7 linked regions of the Homo sapiens genome follow. The protein of the gene in region 7 interacts with the protein of the main gene of each other region in a pairwise test. Each region holds a gene or a part of one and is shown on either strand. Other genes may lie near its edges.

Region 1 (3,500 bases), about 17 Mb from region 7:
CTACCTAAAACAGCAACATCCTCTAAGCCCTGAACTCCTACACAACGTTCTTATATAGAATATAAGCTCCTAAAAGCAAGAAACTTCGCTGGGTTTTGTTTCCTTAACTGATAAATCCTCGTGCCTAGAACCATTCCTGGGACATAGTTCCTGCTCAACAGATATTTGTTGATTAAATGAACAATGCTATTCTGTGTCATCACTGAAGCCTACAGGAACTCAATCTATTTCCTACCTTTATACCTTAACCGACCAACCTTCAAGGAAAAGTGGCAGTAAAGGTCACAGGTGTTGATACCAGGTGTCACACTAAAAGAGATAAGCCCACTTCTGCAGGTCTATAGGGCTCTCATTAAGTGGAATAAGAAGGATTCAGCATACTGTGAAAACAGCATAAAAGGAGCTATGACAAAGTACAATTTATATCATGTACATTGTAGAAGATGAACAAGTATATGAATGAAAATTCAGTACATAAAGTAAATTACTACCTGACTTCTCCATCATTTAAAATACCTGGTGAGTTTCTTATAGGTGGTAGTTAACTACAGCATGTTAAATTTTTTTTTTTTTTTTTGAGACAGAGTCTCGCTCTGTCGCCCAGGCTGGAGTGCAGTGGCCTGATCTCGGCTCACTGCAAGCTCTGCCTCCCAGGTTCACGCCATTCTCCTGCCTCCGCCTCCCGAGTAGCTGGGACTACAGGCGCCCGCCACCAAGCCCAGCTAATTTCTTTTGTATTTTTAGTAGAGACGGGGTTTTACCATGTTAGCTAGGATGGTCTCGATCTTCTGACCTTGTGATCCGCCCGCCTCGGCCTCCCAAAGTGCTGGGATTACAGGTGTGAGGCAACGCACCTGGCCAGCATGTTAAAATTTTTCTATTCTGTTCCATAGTTTGAACCTTAACAGAAAGACTATTTATTCAACCAATAATTAAATTTCAAACATAAATTATACTCAGCTAAAACAAGTAAACCCAGGATTTACCATTTAAGATACTATTTGGAAATAGGTTCAAATATGAAATGCTTTCCAAAGCAGGATCATATTGTAGCACACTCTGGTTTCTCAGTAAACCACAGAAATATATCCTACTTTTATGATTTTTCCCTTTGTATTTTCTCATAGTGAAAGCATCAAGGAAAACTCACAGCTGTGCAAAAGATGCACTGGCATTCCTGGAGTGTGGTCATCTTGTCCAGAGACTGCTCACACAGGCAGAGTTTGCAAGTGATGAGGGGGGCCGGAGCCAGGTCTCCAGGAGTGGGATTTTCAGCAGTCATGGCGAGATAGTGGAGCCTACCAGCTGAGCCCATCAGCCTGTCTTCAGCATTCTTCAGTCTCCTCAATCCCTATAGAAAGGTCCAAAGCAGAAAATATTATATGGATTGATAAAGCTATTGTTTAGCCAACACGTCTGGAGGCCAGCTGATCAAATTCTCACCCTCAGTTATCCCAAAACTTACAGCTAATGCATTTCTGGGAACGACGGGCTAGAGAGTGGTTCACCTACCTCGGCAAGGTATCCCTGAAGTCCTGAAATGTAAGCTGACCTCACTGTCCTGATTCACATCATATGAGCTATGGAAATTAAAAGACCACTATGGTGGGGTGGGAATGGGGAGATGTTGGTCAAGCTTACAAAGTTTCATTTAGATGAGATGAATAAGTTCTGGGGAGCTCTCACGCAGCTTGGTGACTAGAGTTAGTAATAATACACTGTATACTTGAAAATGGCCAAGAGTAGATTTTAAATGATCTCACCACACACACACAAAGAAAAATGTGAAGTGATGATGTTCATTAGCTTGATTTAAGCATTTATATACATAGAGCAAAACATCACATTGTATACTGCAAATGTAATTTGTCAATTATACCTTAATGAAGGTCAGGGGCGGGAAATATCACTATGAGCAAACATATTTAGGAGTTGCATCACTACAATCAATTCAACAGACTCAAAAAGTACTTAAAATAGAATGTCATTCAAAAAGTTAAACAAAGAGGTAACATATGATCCAGCAATCGGGTATATACCCAAAAGAACTGAAAGCAGGGTCTCAAAGAGATATTTGTACACCCATATTCATAGCAACATTATTCACAATAGCCAAACAGTGGAGGCAACCCAAGTGTCCATCAGCAGAAGAATGAGGCTGGGCGCAGTGGCTCATGCCTGTAATCCCAGCACTGTGGGAGGCCGAGGCAGGTGGATTGCTTGAGGTCAGGAGTTCAAGACCAGCCTGGCCAACATGGTGAAACCTCGTCTCTACTAAAAATACAAAATTACAAAAAATACAAAAATACAAAATTAGCCAGGCACAGTGGCACATCTGTAATCCCAGCTACTCAGGAGGCTGAGGCGGGAGAATCACTTGAACCCAGGAGGCAGAGGTTGCAGTGAGTCAAGATTGCGTCACCACACTCCAGCCTGGGTGACAGAATGAAACGTCTCAAAAAATAAAAAATTAAAAAGACAGAAGAACAAACAAAATGTGGTCTATATATACAGTGGAATAAAAAGAAATAAAATTCTGACACATGCTACAACATGGATGAACCTTGAAGACATCATGCTAACTGAAATAAACCAGACAGAAAATCAAATATTGTATGATTCCACTTAAATGAGGTACCTAGAGTAGTCAATTCTGAGAGACAAAAAGAAGAATAGAGGTTACCAGGGGCTGGTGGGAGGGGGAAATGAAGAGTTACTGTTTGTGGGGTTTTTTTTTCCTAGAGAAAGGGTCTCTCTCTGTTGCCCAGGCTCGAGTGTGGTGGCACAATCATAGCTCACTGCAGCCTCGAACTCCTGGACTGACATGACCCTCCCGACTCCACCTCCCGAGTCAGGGTATGCTTCCTCACCTGGCATGTTCAACGGGTACAGAGTTTCTGCTTGGGATGATGAAATAATTGTTTTCCCCATTTTATAGATTAATTGTGATACTGATAAGTTAGGTAATCTGCCAAAGTTCTCAGAGCTTGTACATGGCAGAGCAGAAGACAATCCTCAGCCTTCTGAGGCCACCAAGCCCAGTGCCAGATCCATTACACCAGAGCTGCCTTGTGTGGATATCACATGGACAGACGAAGCAGAGAAAAGAAGGAGGAAGGGGGACAGAAAGAGGAAAAGAGAGTTGAAGTCCATGACTACAGCTATCCTTAAGGTCCCTGAAGCTGCACAGAAACAAAATTTGTCTCCCCACACAGCATGACCATGGGAAAAGACATCTTTAGACTGAAAAATAAAAACTACAGCCAAAGTTCTTCTACTAGATTGTTTTTATTCTGAATCTTTATCTTTAAAAGAGACTAAATAATTGTGAAAATAATTTCTCCACATATTCATATTTTATATCACATCTGGAAATTTCATGTTCTGGTTAAACAAAAGCAAAATCCTATAGTTCTTACTATTTTTAAAGAGTGGCCAATTCTAATAAATTCTGCCATAGAAATAATTGCAAATACACCTCCCCCTACAAGAACCAAGCT
Region 2 (3,500 bases), on a different chromosome or scaffold from region 7:
TCCATGCATGTATACTGAGGCCCAGAGAAGTTAAGTAACTTGTCCAAAGTCCCAAAGCAAGCAAGCAAGCAAGCAAGCAAGCAAGCAAGCAAGCAAGGAAGCAGCTGTCCCATCACTGGAGTCTGCATAAGCCTTGTAGATTCCCAGCTCCTGGTACTGTCCATTCATACCTCACCCTCATGGCTCGACCTCTTACCCATGGCACTCACCATCTTCATCAGGAGTGAGGAAGGTATAGAAAGCTGGTGGGTTCAAGGACTCCACGAACTTGGATTCCACCATTGATTCAGACAGCAGCTCTAGCTCCTCAGGGAGAAGGAGCAGACTGATGGCCTCAGGGAGGATGCTAGAAGGCAGCAAGATTGGCAGGTTTGGAGGGCTGCCTTCTGGTGTAGGCCTGGAGCTGTTGAGTAGGCTCATTGTTGGAACTCCTGGCCTAGATGGTCCCAGAACTTGCCTGGTCCTCTGGGGACCCGGGAGGAGGTCATACTGATGCCAGAACCTTCCAGGGGGCAGAGTGGGAGTAAAGGGCATGGGGAGGGGTTCTCCAAGGACAGAGGTGGTTGTGGTACTGCTGGGACCTGTGGAACTTGAGATTGTATTTGGGAATGTGCTTAGGCTCTCAGGAAGTGGGGGCCTTGGTCTGTCAGGTCTAGGAGGTAGTGGGGTTTGAGGCATATGGGGGTTTGGGGTCTCAGGCTTGGAAAGTGATATGCTTGTGGAAATTTGGTGTGGTGGGGCACTCGGTTTAAGAGATAATAAGATTTTAGGGGTCTTGGACAAGAGGATTCCAGGCCCCAGGTGTGGCATGTTGTTTCGGGTCTTGGGAGCAGGAACCCTAGGTCTGGTGTGTAGTGGGTACTTGGGAACCTGAAGTGTAGAGACTCCAGGTCTTGACTGTGGCAGGCCTTTAGGTGCCTGTGATGTGAGTGCCCCAAGTTGGGGGTGCGATGGAGCACCAGGTTTGGAATGCAGTGGAGTAACACATTTCACAGTGTCAGCTTTGGGCGAGGCTGGGATGCCAGGTTTCACAGGTGGGACTTGTGTCCTGGAGTTCGTGGGTAATATATCAGGATTCTGGTGTGATAGAGAGCCGGGCTTCAGAGGCAACAGAGTACCAGAATTTGAGGGCACAAGAATGGTAGGTTTTGTCCTGAGAGTTGGCTGGGCCAAGGTGCCAGAATCCTGTTGTGCTGGAATTTTGGCCTTTGGGTATGTGGGCATTGACAGGGTATGAGGGCTCTCTCCCAATGGCTCCAGCTCTTTGGAACTTAGCATCTTCTTGGTAGAGGCAGTAGTAGTTGAGGATAAGTAGAACTTTGGTTTCACAGGCCTTGATTTGGGGGAGATGACCTTGGGCACCAAGGCTGGCTGAGCTGTGCTTACCCCTAGGCCATGCCTGCTGCTGGATGAGGGCATGATGGTGTCTGGCCCAGCAGAGGTGGAAGTCTGTCTCCTGGTCTCCTCACTGGCCTGTTTGGGTTGCACCATGACCAGTGAAGTCAGAGGTGTGACAAAGTTGTATTCAAGGGACAGGTTGAGGACTTTGGCAGCCAGCAGGTGGCGAGTGGTGGTGTCACGAGCTTGGAAGTGTGCATCCAGCAGTTCTCCAATGGTGACATAGGCCCAGAGGCGGCGGATGAAGTGGGCCACATTGGGGGCTGGCTCCCCTGGGCAACCAAAGGCCTTCTGGCTGTTGTTGGTGGCCCCTTCACTGTGGTGGGCCACAAGAAGCTGATCCTTGGGGCCACGGGCTGCCAGGTGGATGCCCAGTTCCTGTTTGCCTGGCTGCACCTGTCCTGCCACCACCAGCTCAGAGCCACCAAAGTAGTTGGGGAAAACGGCCCAAGGGGAGGCCCCAACCAAGCCACCCAGGTAGTTCAGACGCACATCTGCCAGCAGAGGCATGGAGATCTCCTCATAGAGGCCCTTCAGCTGTAGGGCCGCATCAGTGTCCTCATATATGCGCCGGGCTATTCCCCGGTTTTCCAGGGACAGGCGGCGCAGCAGTGTAAAGTCAGCATCATCCCCAAAGGCCAAGCTGAAAAGGGATACCCTGTGGCCTAGCGCCTGACGGACATTGGAGAGGATCACACTGGGGGTCGTCACGCCGGCCGTGGGCTCCCCATCCGTCAGGAAGATGATAAGAGGGATCCTCCCCACACTGGGGCCCCTCCCAGGCTCCTGGTTGCTATGGTTCAGCACTGAAGCAGCTGCCAGCAGAGCTGAGTTGACGTCTGTCCCTAATTGGGGAATAGATTGTGAGACCATCTTCTCTGGTCACTTCTACCCCCATTGCAGACACACTGGGCACCTCATCAACTTCCCAGGCTCACAGCTCCTTATCTTTGCTCAGGCTGTATCCACTGTTTCTCCTTCCCAACTTCTCCACTCCCACCCAGACTTGCTGAGATCTGACATTGGGGCCCACATGTCCTTGGCTTTTATCACTCTCTGTCTCACACTGTTCTTTGTCTGTTTCCTTGGTGGTGCAGGGTCGAGGGGGGAGATGTCTCATTCCCGAGCCAGACTGGCAGGCTCCCAAGGCTAGCACCCCCCCCTCCAACCTTCTTGCTACAGGGGAAGAAAGGACAGAGTTGACAGGAGGCAGTGGGTAGAGGAGACTTCAGTAGTTGTCAGAGACGATTGCTTAAAAGCTAGAATCAGGGCAGCAGCTTCCTCAAATGCTTGGAAATAAATATCTAGATTATTGATTTAAAGAAAGTTTAGCAAATTCTTTCAAGTGTTTGCTTTAAAGAAGAGGAAACTGAGGCCAAAAAGAAATGTGCCCTAAGATACATGGAGAATCGGCTGTGCTCTTTCTACAAGGAAAGGGTGATGGGAGAACACAGAGGACAAAGGACCATATTTGTGTGAAATGTGGTCTTGATATTTCAGGAACTGTGAGAGTTGAGGAGGATGGGGGAATGAAGAGAGGGTTTCAGGAATTTCCCATATCACCACAGCCTGCCCATTTGGGTGGGTAGATCTAACACTTACAGCCATCGGCTTCCATGCAATGCAGGTAGTCCTTGGCACTGTGGACATTCTGGATGGTGGCCTGGATTGAGCCTCCAGCTTTCCAAACATTAACTGTGTCAGAAAAGGAGATGATGTTGAAGTAGTCATTGGCTTGAAGGTCACTGAGGATCACATTCATGGCCGTTTTAGTCTGTGGGATATGGATGAAATGAAGAGAATGGGACAAGACTTGAGGTCTATGAGATTGAAAGGCTTTTTCTACACAAGGCATTAACATCTAAGTGTTATATGGTTTTAAGACTCTCTGACTGCAGGACTCTGTGAATCTAGGATTCTCAGGTGAAAAGACTCTATGGGTTCCAAGGCATAGAACTGCACTGTTTAATATGGGAACTAATAGTCACATGTAGCTACTTATATTTGAATATAAACTAGCTAAAATTAAAGAAAAATTCAAACATTTAATTCTTTATTTGCAGTAGCCACATTTCAAGTGTTCAATAGCCACATGTTGCCAG
Region 3 (3,500 bases), on a different chromosome or scaffold from region 7:
CTAGATTATTTTGGCTGTTCTGGATCTCCCTATGAATTTTAGGATCAGCTTGTTAGTTTCTGCAAAAAGAGACCTGAGATTTTGACAGGGGTTACATTGACTCTGTAGATCACTTGGGGAGTTTTGCCATCTTAACAATATTAACTGTGGAACCTAAATTCCTTTTTGCTGGTGGCACTGCTCACTCAGCTTCCCTAGTCATTGAGTCTGCTGAGTAGGCACTCTGAGACCCATCCATCAAACTGCACAGACAAAACTCCAGCGATGTAAATGTCTCTTTCCTTTTTGAAGAAAGTAACACAGTATACTGTAGTGTCTAATTTAAGGCTTGGGTAAGACATTTAACTCCTGAATTTGTGAAATGGGAGTGCATCTGGCACCTGGACACACATATGACAGATCTGGCTTTCCTTCATGCTAAGGATGGGATGGAGATCTCTAAGATACTCCCATAACCCCTTGCTTCATGCCTGGAGAAGTGTGGTGGGAACTGGGAGACCCCACAGCCCTGGAGGCACCAGGTGGTGATAGGAGAATTGAAGCCAGGCTCCATTTTATCTTGTTTTATCTGTTGGGCAAAGGGGTACAATTTCATTTGAGGAAAGAGTTCTGCTGCTAAAACAATCTTAGCCCCTCACCCCCAATTCACTCACATCATAGTTTGAAGAATGGAATAAAAATAAAAAGGGAGTAATATCACATATTAAAAGTTTAGTTTAGGCCAGGCGCAGTGGCTCATGCCTGTAATCCCAGCACTTTGGGAGGTTGAAGTGGGAGCATTGCCTCAGGCTAGGAGTTTGAGACCCGCCTGGGCAGCAAAGCGAGACTCTATTTCTATAAAACAATTAAAAATTAGTTGGGTGTGACGGCACATGTCTGTAGTCCCACATACTTGGAAGGCTAAGGTGGGAGGATAGCTTGAGCCCCGTTGTTTGACGCTGCAATGAGCTGTGCTCACACTAATGCACTCCAGCTTGGCGACAGAGCAAGACCCTGTCTCAAAAGAAAAAAAAAAGCTTAGTTTACACCCTGACATGTACTTATGTGTTCCAGATGTAATGCTTTGGCACAGCACAAATACATGATTTTATTTTCAAGAAAGAAATAATAAAAAATGGAGTGCCTATATTTGTATCACTTGGAACCTTGTTTTCTAAACTTAAAGAACAACCTGGGAAACTACATTTGAAACTTCAAATCCATTCATACCTCAACTCATCTGGGGTGAGGAGCTCTCATTTTAAACAAACAATGTGTGTGTGTGTGTGTGTGTGTGTGTGTGTGTGTTTGAGAGACAGAGATTAGAGTTATTTATTGCAGTTGTTTCAAAAAAGCAATTTAAAAAAGCATGAATTTGGACTGTGTTTTTAGTTTGTTTCTGGGAGAAGAGAAACTTACATGCAATAGAATATATGTTTTGAGGTCTTCAAAATCTCAGATCTAGGCCAGGCGTGGTGGCTCACGCCTGTAATCCTAGCACTTTGGGAGGCTGAGGCAAGTGGATCACGAGGTCAGGAGTTCAAGACCAGCCTGGCCAAGATGGTGAAACCCCGTCTCTGCTAAAAATACAAAAATTATCCAGACGTGGTGGTGAGTGCCTGTAATCCCAGTTACTAGAGAGAGGCTGAGGCAGAGAATTGCTTGAACCTGGGAGGCAGAGGTTACGGTGAGCCAAGATCACGTCATAGCACTCCAGCTTGGGTGATACAGCGAGACTCGGTCTCAGAAAAAAAAAAAAAAAAAATCAGATCTTTTGCCTTAGCAGATTCCCTTATTTAAGTTGTTGGAACCGGCAGTTCATAGGGATTTTGTTTCCATCCTTTAGTGAGGGGGGTGTGTGCGTGTGTGTGCACATGGAAAGTTAGGGGAAAAACACAATGATATAACCTAACCCCAAAACAAGGAAGCACGTTACACAGTTGAGGTTTGGCGCTTCAGTTCCTGCCCAGTCTCAGAAGGTACAGCTTGGCTGACCTTGTGTGACCTATCTCTATGACACATCTCCCAAGGGGGTGGGGAGGACTGTTTCTCTCCAGCATGGCTTTAGTTTTATAAAAGCCCTGTGCAGTCTTGCAAACTCAAATGGTTTTCTTAACAAATCACTCACATTTCATGTGTTCTGGGCTGGGCAGGGCCTCGCTAATCCTTGGCCAGCTTTGTGAGTCAGAAATTATTTAAATGATTGCCTGAGTCCTTTTGAGGCGAGAGAATTGGCAAGTTAATTTAGGGAGGTGCAATGACTCTTAAACAGCACTGCAGTGAGTGGCAGCATTGATAAATGTGTTAGAAGCTCTATTTTATTGTGATAATAAATGCTAATGAAGAAAATGAACGTATTACCTTTTAGAGTGAGATAAGAATGATGATGCTACCAAATTTTATTAAGCATTTATTGTGTGGTGGAGTATGGTGGCTTCTCCCATGTTTTTGACTGTGACCTATTGTAAAACATAGACTGCAACCTGGTAACCTGGTGTGTGTGTGTGTGTGTGTGTATGTGTGTGTGCGCGCATATCTGAATTATTTGGTGAAACAATAGTTACCCTATGCGTGTCTAGTGTCCTCTGGGCTCAAGTGATCCTCTTGCCTTGGCCTCCAGAGTAACTGGGACTACAGGTGCATGCCACCACACCGGCTAATTTTTTGTTGTTGTTTGTTTGTTTTTGTTTTTTTTGAGACGGAGTCTTGCTCTGTCGCCCAGGCTGGAGTGCAGTGGTGTGATCTTGGCTCACTGCAAGCTCTGCCTCCCAGGTTCACGCCATTCTCCTACCTCAGCCTTCTGAGTAGCTGGGACCACAGGAGCCCGCCACTTTGCCTGGCTAATTTTTTTGTTTTGTTTTTTTTTTTTAGTAGAGACGGGGTTTCACCGTGTTAGCCAATGGTCTCGATCTCCTGACCTCATGATCCGCCCGCCTCGGCCTCTCAAAGTGCTGGGATTACAGGCATGAGCCACCGTGCCTGGTCTCACGCCGGCTAATTTTTTAAATTTTTTGTAGAGACTGGGTCTCTCTGTATTACCCAGGCTGGTCTCAAACTCCTGGCCTCATGTGATTTTCTGGCCTCAGCCTCCCAGTGTGCTGGGATTACAGGTGTGAGCCACTGCACCCACCCTAAAGTTGCATTTGAAAACAAATATATCTACTATGATAGCTTTGATCAGTATATAGACAAATATTATTATTATTATTATTATTATTATTATTATTATTTTGAGACAGAGTCTTGCTGTCACCCAGGCTGGAGTGCAGTGGCGCAATCTTGGCTCACTATAAGCTCTGCCTCCTGGGTTCACGCCATTCTCCCGCCTCAGCCTCCCGAGTAACTGGGAGTACAGGCGCCCGCCACCACGCCCGGCTAATTTTGTTTTTGTATTTTTAGAAGAGACAGGGTTTCACCGTGTTAGCCAGGATAGTCTCGATCTCCTGACCTTGTGATCCACCCGCCTTGGCCTCCCAAAGTACTGGGATTACAGGCGTGAGCCACCGCGCCTGGCCGACAAA
Region 4 (3,884 bases), on a different chromosome or scaffold from region 7:
GAGGGCTCCACTCATGAATGGGATCAGTGCCCTTATAAAAGAAGCTTGAGATAACTCCCTTGCCCTTATGGCATGTCAGGACACAGGAAGAAAGTGCCATCAGTGAGGAGCAAGCCCTCACCAAACACTGAATTTGCTGACACCTTGATCTTAGGCTTCCCAGCCTCCAGAACCATGAGCAACAAATATCTATTGTTTAAAATTACCCAGTCTAAGGTATTTTAGCAGCCCTAACAGACTAAGACAGAAGTGCAGAGGGAGGTGTTGAAGAAGGAGGGGCTCCTAACAGCTCTACAGAACACCCTGGTCTACCCTGGGATTCTGTAGTCTTCAGACCCAGTATGTTTCCCTCACCTCATGTTTCTCTGCTTCTGTTGATTTCAGGTTGAGTCTGAGACTTGCTAATATTGGTCTTAATTGATATTTCCTACATTAAAACAGTCAGGTTCTTAAAGCCCAAGACATACAGCCCCAGGCATTTGCTTTTAAAGCTCAGTCCTATAAATATTTAACCTGGTAGAATCAGAATCCGTGTCAGGGACAGATCAACAGATAGGACATGGGTGTGGCCTTACCCACAGAGACCAGAAGCCTGAAGGTGTCCAGCATTACATCACGGTACAGGGTCCTCTGGGCAGGCTTCAGCTGCCCCCACTCCTCCTGGCTGAAGCCCACTACCACGTCCTCAAACGTCACTTGCTCCTGAAACATCACACGAGTGTCCTCAGCCAAGCCAACCCTGGCACTGGCTGCTGGTGGGGTAGCTGGTAAATGCCAGCCAGGCTGGGTCGGATGGAGTTCCCTTTGGTCTGGGGTTTTGGGTCAGGTTTTTCTGTGGGGCCTGGATGGGTGCCCTGCTGATGAGGTGGAGGATCTTAGAATCTAAGGCATCATGCCCGTTTCCAATAATTTGTCTCTTGAAATAAGAAATGGAGGGAGCCAGCAATAAAGGAGTGGACCAGCCCAGCATGGTGTCGCATGCCCGTGGTCCCAGCTGCTTAACAGGCTGAGGTGGGAGGATCACTTGAGCACGTAAGTTTGAAGCACAGTGAGCCATGATTGCATCACTGCACTTCAGCCTAGGGGATAAACAAAGTTATAAAGCTAGTAGCAGAAGTCTAAAGACTGAATCTGGGTGGTTTTTTTTTTCCCCCGAGACGGAGTCTCGCTTTGTCGCCCAGGCTAGAGTGCAGTGGCATGATCTTGGCTCACTGCAAGCTCCGCCTCCTGGGTTCACGCCATTCTCCTGCCTCAGCCTCTCGAGTAGCTGGGACTACAGGCGCCCGCCACCCCCCCGGCTAATTTTTTTTTGTATTTTTAGTAGAGACGGGGTTTCACCGTGTTCGCCAGGATGGTCTCGATCTCCTGACCTCGTGATCCGCCCACCTCGGCCTCCCAAAGTGCTGGGATTACAGGTGCGAGCCACCGCGCCCGGCCAAATCTGGGTTTGTTTTTTAATTTTTTAGAGACAGGGTTCCACTGTCATTCAGGCTGGAGTGCAGTGGCACATCATGGCTCACTGCAGCCTCCAACTCCTGGGCTCAAGCAATCCTCCCCCATAGCTGGGATTACAGCTACAAGCCATCGCACCAGTCCCCTTGTACGGGTTTTCTGACATTCCTACAGGAGGCTGGTTTCTTCTGGTGGCTTATGGGTGGGGTTAATGTCATCATAAAAAGGCGAGTTCCGCCCCCTTGGCCTCCATGACGTCTGAGGAAGCGGCACTCGATGCGCCATCTTGGAGCGCAGAGCATGCTAAGGCCTTCAACTTCAGACTGCAGAGCCGGGGCACCTACAATTTTCTGACATCACCCAGCCTCAGGTATGCAATGACGGCCGCACAAACATAAAGCCCACTCAGACAGGGACCCGTGCCCGCTGACCTCCAGCGCGGCGTGGGCGGTCCTTTCAGAGGCAGGCTGTGGTTGGGGAGCTTGGCGCGGACTTTAGGAGGCCGGGTGTGCAGGTAGAGGCCGGACACGAGTAGAGGCTAGATGTGCAAATAGAGGCCGGGCACGAGTAGAGGCCGGGCACCAGTAGAGGCCAGGTGCGCGAGTAGAGGCCAGTTGTGCGAGTAGAGGCCGGGCACGAGTAGGGGCCGGGCACGCAAGTAGGGGCCGGGCACAAGGAGGAGGCTGAGCGCGAGTAGGGACGGGGTGCAAAGAGGAGGCCGGGCGTGAGAAGGCCGCGCGCGAGGAGGCCGGGCACGAGGTGGAGGACACGCGCAAGGAGGCCGAGATTCTCACCGGGTCTGTGGAGACGCGCACCCCAGGGGTCATGCCCTGGCTTCTGGCAGGAACGGCTGGCCCTGCTCTGTGGGAAAGGGGAGGTGAGCAGCTGGGGCAGGCAGAGGCGGTGCTCAGGTCCCCAAGCCGGGGAACTGCGCCAGAGCCTGGGGAGCTCCGCGGAGAGCCGTCCAGGGCCCCGCGTACCCGTTTAAGCGCCTGCTGTGTGTGGGGCGGCCCTCCGCTCGGAGAAGGGCAGCCTAGGGTTTTCCCGCCTGTCTGAGGGAAGCTGAAGGCCTGGCGGGTGCGGACACATATCTGCTGCGCAGACTCTGAGCCTTAACGCTACAGTGACAAGGGCCGGGTGGTTGCGGTCCCCTGGCCCTGGGCACTATGCCTCAGTTTCTCTCTTCCATCAACAAAGGTGGCGGCCCAGTGCCCGGTGTGGGGCAGAGGTGGGGCCAGGGGCGGGGCGCGCGTTCCCTCAGGGGCCGTCGGAGCAGCTCCTGTCCAGCTGGGCGTTGGGCCCCGCCCTCCTCTCAGACTAGGGATGCCCCGCAAAGCCTGCCCCCGCCAGCCCCGAAACGGCCTTCCCCAGGCCCCGGGCAGCAAAACGGACTCCACACAGACGCGCGCTGCTGGAAACTCGCCCCGCCAGGGCCTCAGGAAGATCCCCGGACCCCCCGCACCCGGCCCGGCCCGGCCCGGCCTGGCCTCCCCTCCCCCTCCTCGCCGGCCTAGCTCACCCTCCTGACTGCGAGACAAAGGCCGCGGCACCGGCAGCCGACACTGCGCCGGCGCGAGCCTAACTCCATTTCCCAGAGAGCCGCGCGCGCATTTCCGGCCGCCCTCCCCCACCTCGCTCTCGCCCTTGGCGTTCGTGAGCTCTCAGTGCTGCTGGAGCTGGAGTGACTGGGCCTGGTGAAACAGGGCGCGCGGGGTGCCTGGGCATCAACGCGGGATAAGTGCCGCTTGGAACGCCGTGAGCTCCCGGCGCGACCACACGGGCTTTCGTGTTGGAAACTCTACCGTCAGTTTTACTGCTGCAAACAAAGCAATGATTTTTTCAAAACACATACTTTCAACCAAAACATTCACCAAGATCGCACACACGGGAGTCTTTGCATTTTCCACACTGAGGCAGCCATGGAGACTTCACACTGTATTTATTACATGGTTATAAGGAACATCACGTGCAAGACACTAACAATTATGACGACTTTGGACATTGCTAGGTAATTGTCAAAATTGTGCATTTGAACAGCAGCAAAATATTCAAAGCTGGTGTGCCCTCGCTGACACGAAATGAATTGTCATTTTCTGAACATTCACCAAAGCCTGCCAGGCGCTAGGCCTAGGTTCAGCAGCACACAATAGTGAAGCCCCCATTCAAGCGGGCTTCGTTTCACCAGCGTACGTCACACGTCCGTGGAGCAGCGAGACCAGAGGAGCTGGGAAAGCCAGGGCTGAGCCTTGTGCTTTTGCCCTTTTAAGGGAGGACAGATTAATTCCAATCAGCCTGGGCTTGGGAGCTGTATTTGAAGCAGAGGAAAAGTTTTAAGACGGGCATTTTTTTTTCTTTGACTGAAACAACTCTGAAAACAGCAGAGAACACAATACGAATTCTCGTACCACACACAGACACTTGCAAAGATTTGG
Region 5 (3,500 bases), on a different chromosome or scaffold from region 7:
CCTAAAAGAGCTCCTGAAGGAAGCACTAAACATGGAAAGGAACAACTGGTATCAGCCACTGCAAAAACATGACAAATTGTAAAGACCATTGATGCTAGGAAGAAACTGCATCAACTAACAAGCAAAATAACCAGCTAACATCATAATGACAGGATCAAATTCACACATAACAATATTAACCTTAAATGTAAATGGGCTAAATGCTCCAATTAAAATACACAGACTGCCAAATTGGATAAAGAGTCAAGACCCATCAGTGTGCTGTATTCAGGAGACCCATCTCACATGCAGAGACACACATAGGCTCAAAAGAAGATCTACCAAGCAAATGGAAAACAAAAAAAGGCAGGGGTTGCAATCCTAGTCTCTGATAAAACAGACTTTAAACCAACAAAGATCAGAAGAGACAAAGAAGGCCATTACATAATGATAAAGGGATCAATTAAACAAGAAGAGCTATCCTAAATATATATGCACCCAATACAGGAGCACCTAGATTCATAAAGCAAGTCCTTAGAGAACTACAAAGAGACTTAGACTCCCACACAATAATAATGGGAGACTTTAACACCCCACTGTCAACATTAGACAGATCCATGAGACAGAAAGTTTACAAGGATATCCAGGAATTGAACTCAGCTCTGCACCAAGCGGACCTAATAGACATCTACAGAACTCTCCACCCCAAATCAACAGAATATACATTCTTCTCAGCACCACACCGCACTTATTCCAAAATTGACCACATAGTTGGAAGTAAAGCACTCCTCAACAAATGTAAAAGAACAGAAATTATAACAAACTGTCTCTCAGACCACAGTGCAATCAAACTAGAACTCAGGATTAAGAAACTCACTCAAAACTGCTCAACTACATGGAAACTGGACAACCTGCTCCTGAATGACTACTGGGTACATAATGAAATGAAGGCAGAAATAAAGATGTTCTTTGAAACTGATGAGAACAAAGACACAACATACCAGAATCTCTGGGACACATTTAAGGCAGTGTGTAGAGGGAAATTTATAGCACTAAATGCCCACAACAGAAAGCAGGAAAGATCTAAAATTGACACCCTAACATCACAACTAAAAGAACTAGAGAAGCAAGAGCAAACACATTCAAAAGCTAGCAGAAGGCAAGAAATACCTAAGATTAGAGCAGAACTGAAGGAGATAGAGACACAAAAAACCCTTCAAAAAATCAGTGAATCCAGGAGCCGCTTTTTTGAAAAGATCAACAAAATTGATAGACCACTAGTAAGACTAATAAAGAAGAGAGAAGAATCAAACAGATGCAATAAAAAATGATAAAGGGGATATCACCACTGATCCCACAGAGATACAAACTACCATCAGAGAATACAATAAACACCTCTACGCAAATAAACTAGACAATCTAGAAGAAATGGATAAATTCCTGGACACATACACCCTCCCAAGACTAAACCAGGAAGAAGTTGAATCCTTGAATAGGACAATAATAGGCTCTGAAATTGAGGCAATAATTAACAGCCTACCAACCAAAAAAAGTCCAGGACCAGACAGATTCACAGCCGAATTCTACCAGAGCTACAAAAAGGAGCTGGTACCATTCCTTCTGAAACCATTTCAATCAACAGAAAAAGAGGAAATCCTCCCTAACTCATTTTATGAGGCCAGCATCAACCTGATACCAAAGCCTGGCAGAGACACAACAAAAAAAGAGAATTTTAGACCAATATCCTTGATGAATATTGATGCAAAAATCCTCAATAAAATACTGGCAAACCGAACCCAGCAGCACATCAAAAAGCTTATCCACCATGATCAAGTTGGCTTCATCCCTGGGATGCAAGGCTGCTTCAACATACACAAATCAATAAACGTAATCCATCATATAAACAGAACCAAAGACAAAAACCACGTGATTATCTCAATAGATGCAGAAAAGGCTTTCGACAAAATTCAACAGCCCTTCATGTTAAAAACTCTCGATAAATTAGGTATTGATGGGACGTATCTCAAAAAAATAAGAGCTATTTATGATAAACCCACAGCCAATATCATACTGAATGGACAAAAACTGGAAGCATTCCCTTTGAAAACTGTTACAAGACAGGGATGCCCTCTCTCACCACTCCTATTCAACATAGTGTTGGAAGTTCCGGCCAAGGCAATCAGGCAGGAGAAATAAATAAAGAGTATTCAATTAGGAAAACAGGAAGTCAAATTGTCTCTGTTTGCAGATGACATGATTGTATATTTAGAAAACCCCATCGTCTCAGCCCCAAATCTCCTTAAGCTGATAAGCAACTTCAGCAAAGTCTCAGGATACAAAATCAATGTGCAAAAATCACAAGCATTCTTATACACCAACAACAGACAAACAGAGAGCCAAATCATGAGTGAACTCCCATTCACAATTGCTTCAAAGAGAATAAAATACATAGGAAACCAACTTACAAGGGATGTGAAGGACCTCTTCAAGGAGAATTACAAACCACTGCTCAACAAAATAAAAGAGGACACAAACAAATGGAAGAACATTCCATGCTCATGGATAGGAAGAATAAATATGAAAATGGCCATACTGCCCAAGGTAATTTATAGATTCAATGCCATCCCCGTCAAGCTACCAATGACTTTCTTCACAGAATTGGAAAAAACTACTTTAAAGTTCATATGAAACCAAAAAAGAGCCCACATTGCCAAGACAATCCTAAGCAAAAAGAACAAAGCTAGAGGCATCACGCTACCTGACTTCAATCTATACTACAAGGCTACGGTAACCAAAACAGCATGGTACTGGTACCAAAACAGAGATATAGACCAATAGAACAGAACAGAGCCCTCAGAAATAATACCACACATCTAAAACCATCTGATCTTTGAGAAATCTGACAAAAACAAGAAATGAGGAAAGGATTCCCTCTTTATTAAATGGTGCTGGGAAAACTGGCTAGCCATATGTAGAAAGCTGACACTGGATCCCTTCCTTACACCTTATACAAAAATTAATTCAAGATGGATTAAATACTTAAATGTCAGACCTAAAACCATAAAAACCCTAGAAGAAAACCTAGGCAATACCATTCAGGACATAGGCATGGGCAAGGACTTCACGTCTAAAACACCAAAAGCAATGGCAACAAAAGCCAAAATTGACAAATGGGATCTAATTAAACTAGAGAGCTTCTTCTGCACAGCAAAAAAAAAACTACCATCAGAGTGAACAGGCAACCTGCAGAATGGGAGAAAATTTTTGCAATCTACTCATCTGACGAAGGGCTAATATCCATAATCTACAAAGAACTTAAACAAATTTACAAGAAAAAATCAAACAACCCCATCAAAAAGTGGGTGAAGGGTGTGAACAGACACTTCTCAAAAGAAGACATTTATGCAGCCAACAGACACATGAAAAAATGCTCATCATCACTGGCCATCAAAGAAATGCAAATCAAAACCACAATGAGATACCATCTCACACCAGTTAGAATGGCAATCATTAACAAGTCA
Region 6 (3,500 bases), on a different chromosome or scaffold from region 7:
TTATGTGTGTTACGTTTGATTCAGGAACACAATGTACCTTTCATTCCGTCAACAAATATTGAATGCCTGCTGCACACCAGGCACTGTTCTAAATGCTTCCAAGTCCAAGTGCCTGGTCCCCTTTCTCCATATGTAGTAAATAATTATTATGACTAATAAAAAATCCATCACATACTCATTATTGGTTCCCCTGTTTAATCACCTGTAGTCTTTGAACATTTTATTTCCTATAGAGCACACTTGGGGGGAAAAAAAGCTAAGGAGAATGCCACCATCACCCCAAAACTTAAAAGGTCTGAGAATAGACAGGCATTGGCCGACACGATAATGGAATGGGGAAGCAACTGTAGAATCAAAACAGGGCCGTTTTGGAATTGCGATGACTAAGGGAGGAAATGACAGGGGCCTGAAGGGGAAATAGCTTAAAAGGAGGAAGGTGGGAGGCTGGTAAGAGAGCTGCCACGGAGGGGGAGATTAGAACACTCCAACTTGAGTTGCAAAAAAAGGAAATACATTTTTTAGGAACCATTTCCAAACATAACGCCTATGAAGTGTTTGTTCAGGGGAAGAGCAGCCTTGTACACACACCTACGAAAAGCATAGTCGACACTGAGAAGACTGAGAAGAATATGCGTGGCCTCTTGTTCCTGGGAAAGCATCCCCAGCTCTCAGTGTGGGAGATCCTGCACTTCCCCCACACCACCCCCGCTCAGGCTGGAGTACAGTGGCACAATCTCAGCTCAGTGCAACCTCAGCCTCCTGGCTTAAGTGATCCTCCCACCTCAGCCTCCCAAGTAGCTGGGGCTTCAGGCATGCACCACTGTGCCCGGCTAATTTTTGTATTTTTAGTAGAGGTGGGTTTTTTTTCACCATGTTGCCCAGGCTGGTCTCGAACTCCTGTTTTTAAGTGATTGGCCCACCTCAGCTTCCCAAAGTGCTGGGATTACAGGCGTGAGCCACCGTGCCCGGCTAGGCTCTGCACTCTTAAAACTCCTCTAGGAGGCCAGGCACAGTGGCTCATGCCTGTAATCCCAGCACTTTGGGAGGCCAAGGCAGGTGGATCATCTGAGGTCGGGAGTTCAATACCAGCCTGACCAACATGGAGAAACCCCATCTCTACTAAAAACACAAAAATTAGCTGGGCTTGGTGGTGCACGCCTGTAATCCCAAATACTCAGGAGACTGAGGCAGGAGAATCGCTTGAACCCAGGAGGCGGAGGTTGTGGTGAGCCGAAATCACGCCATTGCACTCCAGCCTGGGCAACAAGAGCGAAAACTCCATCTCAAAAACAAACAAACAAAAGAAAGCTCCTCTAGGAGATGAGTGTGGACTGTGAAAAAGTTATTCACAGGCAATTTGAGGCCACCTACCTGGCCACTCAGAGAGTTTCTCCACGAGTTTATGTTAGTGAATGTATTGTTCTTTTCCTTTGAACAACTGCTTCACCTTATCATCAAGAGCAGCTTTTGTTTGCTCTACATGTTCTGGACAGCCCAGGCAGTCTGTCTTTTGTGGGGTTAGGGAGGGACAGGGGGCAAAAGAGCAGTAGGGTCATCCCTGTGTCTTGGAGGTGTTTGCCATCTGGTTAACAGTAAGTGAAAAGTGCTTTGTGGAATGTTCACTTTGGGTTCAGAAATTTTCTTTTAGAGACAGGGTCTCACTTTGTCACCCAGACTGGAGTGCAGTGGCGTTATCATAGTTCACTACAACCTCAAACTCCTGGGCTCAAGCAATCCTCCTGCCTCAGCCTCCCAAGTAGCTGAGACTACTGGTGCACGCCACCATGCCCATCTAATTTTTTTTTTTTTTTTTGTAGAGATGAGGGGCTCTCCCTATATTGCCCAGGCTTGTCTCGAACTCCTGACCTCAAGCAGTCCTCCTGCCTCAGCCTCCTAAAGCACTGAGATTACAGGAGTGAGCCACCACACCCGGCCCAGGTTCAAAAGTGAGAGTCTCCCCACGGTTGAAAGGGGAATAGAAGCACAAGAGTCAGTAATCAATAACAAACAACTCAAGGTGCTCCTTCCTTACACTGGTGTTCCCCAAAGTGAGGTGAATTGCCAGCCACTGGGAGTCAGGGCCAGTTACATAAGACATTCTCGGTAAGCCCCCTTTGGGTATCCCAAATAAGGACTGGGGTGGGTTTATGTGTAGTCCATTATTAACAACTAAACGAACAAACCTAGTGAATTGCAATAAATTCACACCAACAGAACAAAAGAAGAAAAGCTTAAACAAAAGAGTGGCTCCTTGCTTTCCTGAAGCACCTCTAAAAATGACCATAGAAAGATGGAAAAGTTTGGTGAACAAGCCTGAACCTTCACTCATTTCTCTGTCATGCATTAAACAGCTTGAGCCAGCTTTGAATTCTTCCGGGTCAATCAAATGGAAGTGCCCTGACTGCAGGCATGCCAGAGGATTTCAAGTGTGGTGCACAGAACAGTTTTTGTACAATACTGGTGTATCTTGATTTGCATTCAAACAAACTAAAACTAGCTCATCAAACCTGTAATTTCATGGGTAACATCGCTGAGGGACAGTTGTTTTTTAATTGACTCAATTTGTTATTTTACCTAAAAAATTGTAGTGGCACGTGGATATGACAGGAAGCAGGCAGTTGCTAGACACAAAACCCTTTAGAAACACAGGCTGGGGGCTGGGTGTGGTAGTCCACGCCTGTAATCCCAGCACTTTGGGAGGCTGCAGTGGGAGGATCGCTTGAGCCCAGCTGTTGGAGACCAGCCTGGGCAACATAGCGAGACTATCTCTACAAAAAATTTTTAAAAGTAGCTGGGTTTGGTGGCTCATGCCTGTAGTCCTAGCTACTTGAAAGGCTGAGGTGGGAGGATCGTTCGAGCCCAGGAGTTCGAGGCTGCAGTGAGCTGTGATCGCGTCACTGCAGTCCAGCCTGGGTGACAAAGTGAGACCCTGTCTCTAGAAAAGAAAAGAGAAAAAGAAACACAGGCTTAGACAAAGTTTTCTTCTAATTGGTGTCGGCATAATTGCTTACGACCCATCAAATAACACAAAACTCCTTCTTTCTTTATGCCTTTCCTCACTTTTTTCCTTAAAAAAAGAAAAAAGGAAAGAGGGAAGGAAAGGAAAGGAAGTTAGAGAGAAAAGCACCTGCATGTTATTTTCTCTGTAATCCCTCAGATGGCTTTCATGAACTAAGAGGTAAGAGTAAGAGAAGAATTCATGGGAAATGTAGATTTTGCAGCTGGATGGGAACTTTGGCGATTGCCCTGGGAAGCTATCTCACTTTCAGGTGAAGAAACTGAAACCCAGAGAAGTTCTGTTACTTGCCTCCTCCTTCGGTGGGTTTTTCATGAGCAAGGGTGAAATTGTCAGCCCCTTGACTTGATCCAACAGTTCCCCAAACCAAATATCTTAAGCAATAACTCAGGGACTTAGCTGGCAAGGAATAGACTTGGCGGTGGCAGGCAGTGGCAAGGCTGTGAATGAACACACTACGATCTCTGGAGCACTTTGAGTTGGA
Region 7 (3,500 bases):
GACCTGTCCTCTGTGATCCAGACTACCTGAGGCTCGCCTCTTCTTACGATTGTCAGAAATACATTAGTTACGGAGTGAAGGAACCAGAGCAACCTTGCCCAGATCCTGGGCCTGAGAGTTGGCACTCACGGGAGCTGTGGTGGGCTGCGGCCAGCCTGGCCAGCCCAGCTCCCTGTGACGTCATGTCGGCCTTACCTCATCCCACTCCGAGGCGAAGGAGGGTGACTTCTCTAGCCTTTTCTTCCCAATGCTGCAGTTGGATAAGGACTCACTCCGACTCCCCATGGTAGCGTCCTCTGTGGGTGAGCAGGTCAGGAGATCAGAGTCAGACTTGGACAAGCTGCGGCTGAGTTTGAGTTCAGCTTTGGGTTTGCTAGTGGGAGGCGCTCGGCTCCTGGCCCCACTCCGGTCTCCTTCCTCAGCACCACCAGGGTGCGGAGATGCTGTGTGAGTCAAAGTTTCAGGGTGCGAGCGGCTGTTGGTGGTGGGCAGGCCTGTGAGGTAGCCCACTCTCTTGCTCTGGTCCAGGGCACTGGGCTGGGAGGCTCCAGGAGCATGCACACCCGTCTCCTCCAGCTGCATGCTGGCCTTGTGGCAGGCGCCCTGCTGGGGGGACCCGTCTGGATGGCTCTGGCCAGCGGTACAGAGCAGCTGGAAAGGGTCCTGCCCCACCTCGCACACCGGGGAGGAGCCGTGGAGGAGGCCTGAGAACTGCTCTGGGACCTGCCCGTCCTGCCCCTCCGCAGAGTCCTGGCTCCGGCTGCTGCTGCTCCGCCTGTGGTCTTGGAGTGGACGGAGAGACAGAGAAATAAAAAATTAAACGTGGCAAAAATCAACAAAGTTCCAATGCAGCAAGCATATGGCAAAGCAGAGGAATTCACAGAGAAACAGAGAGAGAAACTGGATAGGCTGGGGAGGGGGAGAGGAGAGAAGAAGAGAGAGGAAGGAAGACAGTTTTCATATTGTTCTTAATGTTCAATTTGTACCCAAAGTCAGAGCATTTATGAAATTCCAAACACTGGCCTGATTAATGCTATCTGGCAGCCTTCCCTGTTGTTAGATTTCTGTTAACATTAACGACCAGACCTTGCTATATAAGGCGAGAAGAGTGTTAAGTATAACCTAGAGAAAGGACACAAGTCAGGACAGAGTGAGTGAACATGAAGCAAAAGTAAGAGCACCAGTGAGCAAGCGCGAGCAGGGAGACCCACTCCTGGAACATCTGATACATTTCCATAAAGGCCAAAGTGTTATTTAAAGGCCACCCGCCCTCCCTTCCTCTGGCAAGCAGCAACAGAAAAAAAAAAAAAAAAAAAAAAGAGGTCATGATCCACAACCTGCAACTTCTGGAATTCCTTAACAGAAACAAAACGGCAGAGAAATAACTGCTTCCTTCCTCGGAGGGGGCCATTCCGAGTTCCACGCCTCATCCTTCCTTCCTCAGGGAGCACAGACTTTTCTTTCTCTCTCTCTTTTTTTTTTTTTTTTTTGAGAATGTGCACATCTTGCTTCTTCCAAAATCTCCCAGCTGCTCATATTTGTTTAAGTTTAACCTTAGTTGATCCACTGAAAACAAAATGGTCTAATTTGTCAATGCCAGGAGACATTTGCAGTTCTCTCGAGACTTCCCTAACATCCTAGAAATCTGACACTACTAGCTCATGAGGCCAGCTACTACTGTACACTCAAATACCTCGCCCTGAAGTAGCATAAATAATTGGCCAAATCAGAATCTAACATCAGCACTACACTGGCACACCCAGGGGCTTTCCTTGCATGAACTCAGCCCCATTAAAGATTTTAACCCACATCATCAGAGTAAATAACACTATGTCCAGCACTAGCTCACATTCCATAATATTCAACTTAACCTTCTCTATAAGTGGGATCTATTGCACCTATACCAAACAATTCCCTAGTTTGCTCAAAACTCTCAAGAACTATTCATGAGCTCAGAGAATCTTAGAACCAAAAGGGTCAACTATGTTTACAGATGAGGAGTCTTAGTGGTTACCCCAGGTGGTGCAGGAGAAGACTTCAACCTAGAAGCCTGAAGATCTGGCTCTGGTCCTGGCTGAGCTGTTCTCTAGCTGTGTGGCCTTGGCAGTGATTTCATCTTATTGGGCCTCAGCGTCTAAAGTGACTGGGCTGGGCTGCATGATACTTAAAAATCCCTTTAATGTCATGATAGTGATGAGAATCCAGGTCTCCACCATGTCATGATGGCACACTTCTCCCCCTTAGGGATGTGAGATGCCTGCCTGGGTACCTCTCCTGTTGCTGTCTACACAGCACCCACTCTCCCTCATCAGCATGCCTGAAGGCCCAAAGCCCCTTCTTGAGGTTCAGTTCTGCAACTGGAGAGGGTAGCCAGGTGAGGAGGGGTGCAAAATGAGCAGTGCTTTATAAACACAATGTACTAAAACACAGTCTCCAATGCCCAAGCATGACGCTACTCTCCTGCAACAGTGGTTTTTTCAAAACAGCCTTTAAGAAATGTCTCAACAACCAGCTCTCACAGTGAGCCCAACTCGCTGAGGTCTGAGCAGGGATACAGTTCTCCCATCGCCCCCTCTCCCCTCCCAGCTCCAGAAGAGCAGTTCAGTCTCCACAGTCTGTTCAGCTTTTCACGAGTCTAGAGAAGTGGCCAGGGGCAGCCAATTAGCTCCACTTTATGGCTCTGATTACTTATCCACAGGAGCACAGAAGCACCAACTTTGGCATCTCTCTCCTCTACACTTCTTTATTTTTTTTTTGAGACCAAGTCTTGCTCTGTTGCCCAGGCTGGAATGCAGTTGCACACTCTTGGCTCACTGCAACCTCTGCCTCCTGGGTTCAAGCGATTCTCCCATCTCAGCCTCCTGAGTGGCTGGGAGTACAGGTGTGTGCCACCACGCCCAGCTAATTTTATTGTATTTTTAGTAGAGACGGGGTTTTGCCATGTTGGCCAGGCTGGTCTCAAACTCCTCGCCTCAAGTGATCTGCCTGCCTTGGCCTCCCAAAGTGCTGGATTATAGGCGTGAGCCACTGTGTTGGGCCCCTCCTCTACACTTGACCACTTTGGGACTTTCAAACTTGACCACTTTGGGACTTTCACACCTCAACTCAACTTAAAGGTCAGGTCCTGAGCAATGAACAAACCCTGAAAAACTTGAATCCTTTCTCTAGGGAAGAAGGAATGCTGATTACATAAGAGTTTCATATAGCTTAACCAAGGCCCCAGGAAGCCACGACTCATGGCTACGAATATTACATATAACAACTGGCAGCCAGAACAAAGCTACCCAGTGATGTTGCATGGTGGGGCTACAGTGAGGATGACACATGACCATTTAATGTGGTTCAGGTCAATAGTACTTCCTAGGAGAAGCTGATGGGGAGAGTTAATCAGGCTGTAAAATTTGCCATCTCTGGGACCACATTCTAATAGCCGACTTCCTACAGATCCTGGCCCAAGGTACAATGTCCCTCTGACTATATTTGAATGCAAGATGACTTTG

Evidence for each region.
Region 1: the proteins of ANKS1A (region 7) and RNF144B interact in a two-hybrid assay, tested with the Homo sapiens proteins (one large-scale study listed by BioGRID).
Region 2: the proteins of ANKS1A (region 7) and ITIH6 interact in a two-hybrid assay, tested with the Homo sapiens proteins (one large-scale study listed by BioGRID).
Region 3: the proteins of ANKS1A (region 7) and SPATA12 interact in a two-hybrid assay, tested with the Homo sapiens proteins (one large-scale study listed by BioGRID).
Region 4: the proteins of ANKS1A (region 7) and ZNF135 interact in a two-hybrid assay, tested with the Homo sapiens proteins (one large-scale study listed by BioGRID).
Region 5: the proteins of ANKS1A (region 7) and ANKRD55 interact in a two-hybrid assay, tested with the Homo sapiens proteins (one large-scale study listed by BioGRID).
Region 6: the proteins of ANKS1A (region 7) and CASS4 interact in a two-hybrid assay, tested with the Homo sapiens proteins (one large-scale study listed by IntAct).

The regions. Positions count from the first base shown.
Region 1 is NC_000006.12:18,397,350-18,400,849, reverse strand, and holds part of RNF144B (E3 ubiquitin-protein ligase RNF144B), read right to left. Parts: intron 1,352-3,500; 5' UTR 1,316-1,351; coding exon 1,151-1,315; intron 1-1,150.
Region 2 is NC_000023.11:54,756,756-54,760,255, forward strand, and holds part of ITIH6 (inter-alpha-trypsin inhibitor heavy chain H6 precursor), read right to left. Parts: intron 3,173-3,500; coding exon 3,001-3,172; intron 2,244-3,000; coding exon 210-2,243; intron 1-209.
Region 3 is NC_000003.12:57,067,164-57,070,663, reverse strand, and holds part of SPATA12 (spermatogenesis-associated protein 12), read right to left. Parts: intron 1-3,500.
Region 4 is NC_000019.10:58,058,398-58,062,281, reverse strand, and holds the start of ZNF135 (zinc finger protein 135), read right to left. Parts: upstream 2,433-3,884; intron 2,314-2,432; 5' UTR 2,280-2,313; coding exon 2,247-2,279; exon of another isoform or gene 1,884-2,246; intron 703-1,883; coding exon 576-702; intron 1-575. UniProt on the Homo sapiens protein: Plays a role in the regulation of cell morphology and cytoskeletal organization. May be involved in transcriptional regulation.
Region 5 is NC_000005.10:56,223,331-56,226,830, forward strand, and holds part of ANKRD55 (ankyrin repeat domain-containing protein 55), read right to left. Parts: intron 1-3,500.
Region 6 is NC_000020.11:56,418,760-56,422,259, forward strand, and holds part of CASS4 (cas scaffolding protein family member 4), read left to right. Parts: intron 1-3,500. UniProt on the Homo sapiens protein: Docking protein that plays a role in tyrosine kinase-based signaling related to cell adhesion and cell spreading. Regulates PTK2/FAK1 activity, focal adhesion integrity, and cell spreading.
Region 7 is NC_000006.12:35,014,755-35,018,254, reverse strand, and holds part of ANKS1A (ankyrin repeat and SAM domain-containing protein 1A), read right to left. Parts: intron 1,230-3,500; exon of another isoform or gene 1,182-1,229; intron 783-1,181; coding exon 196-782; intron 1-195. UniProt on the Homo sapiens protein: Regulator of different signaling pathways. Regulates EPHA8 receptor tyrosine kinase signaling to control cell migration and neurite retraction.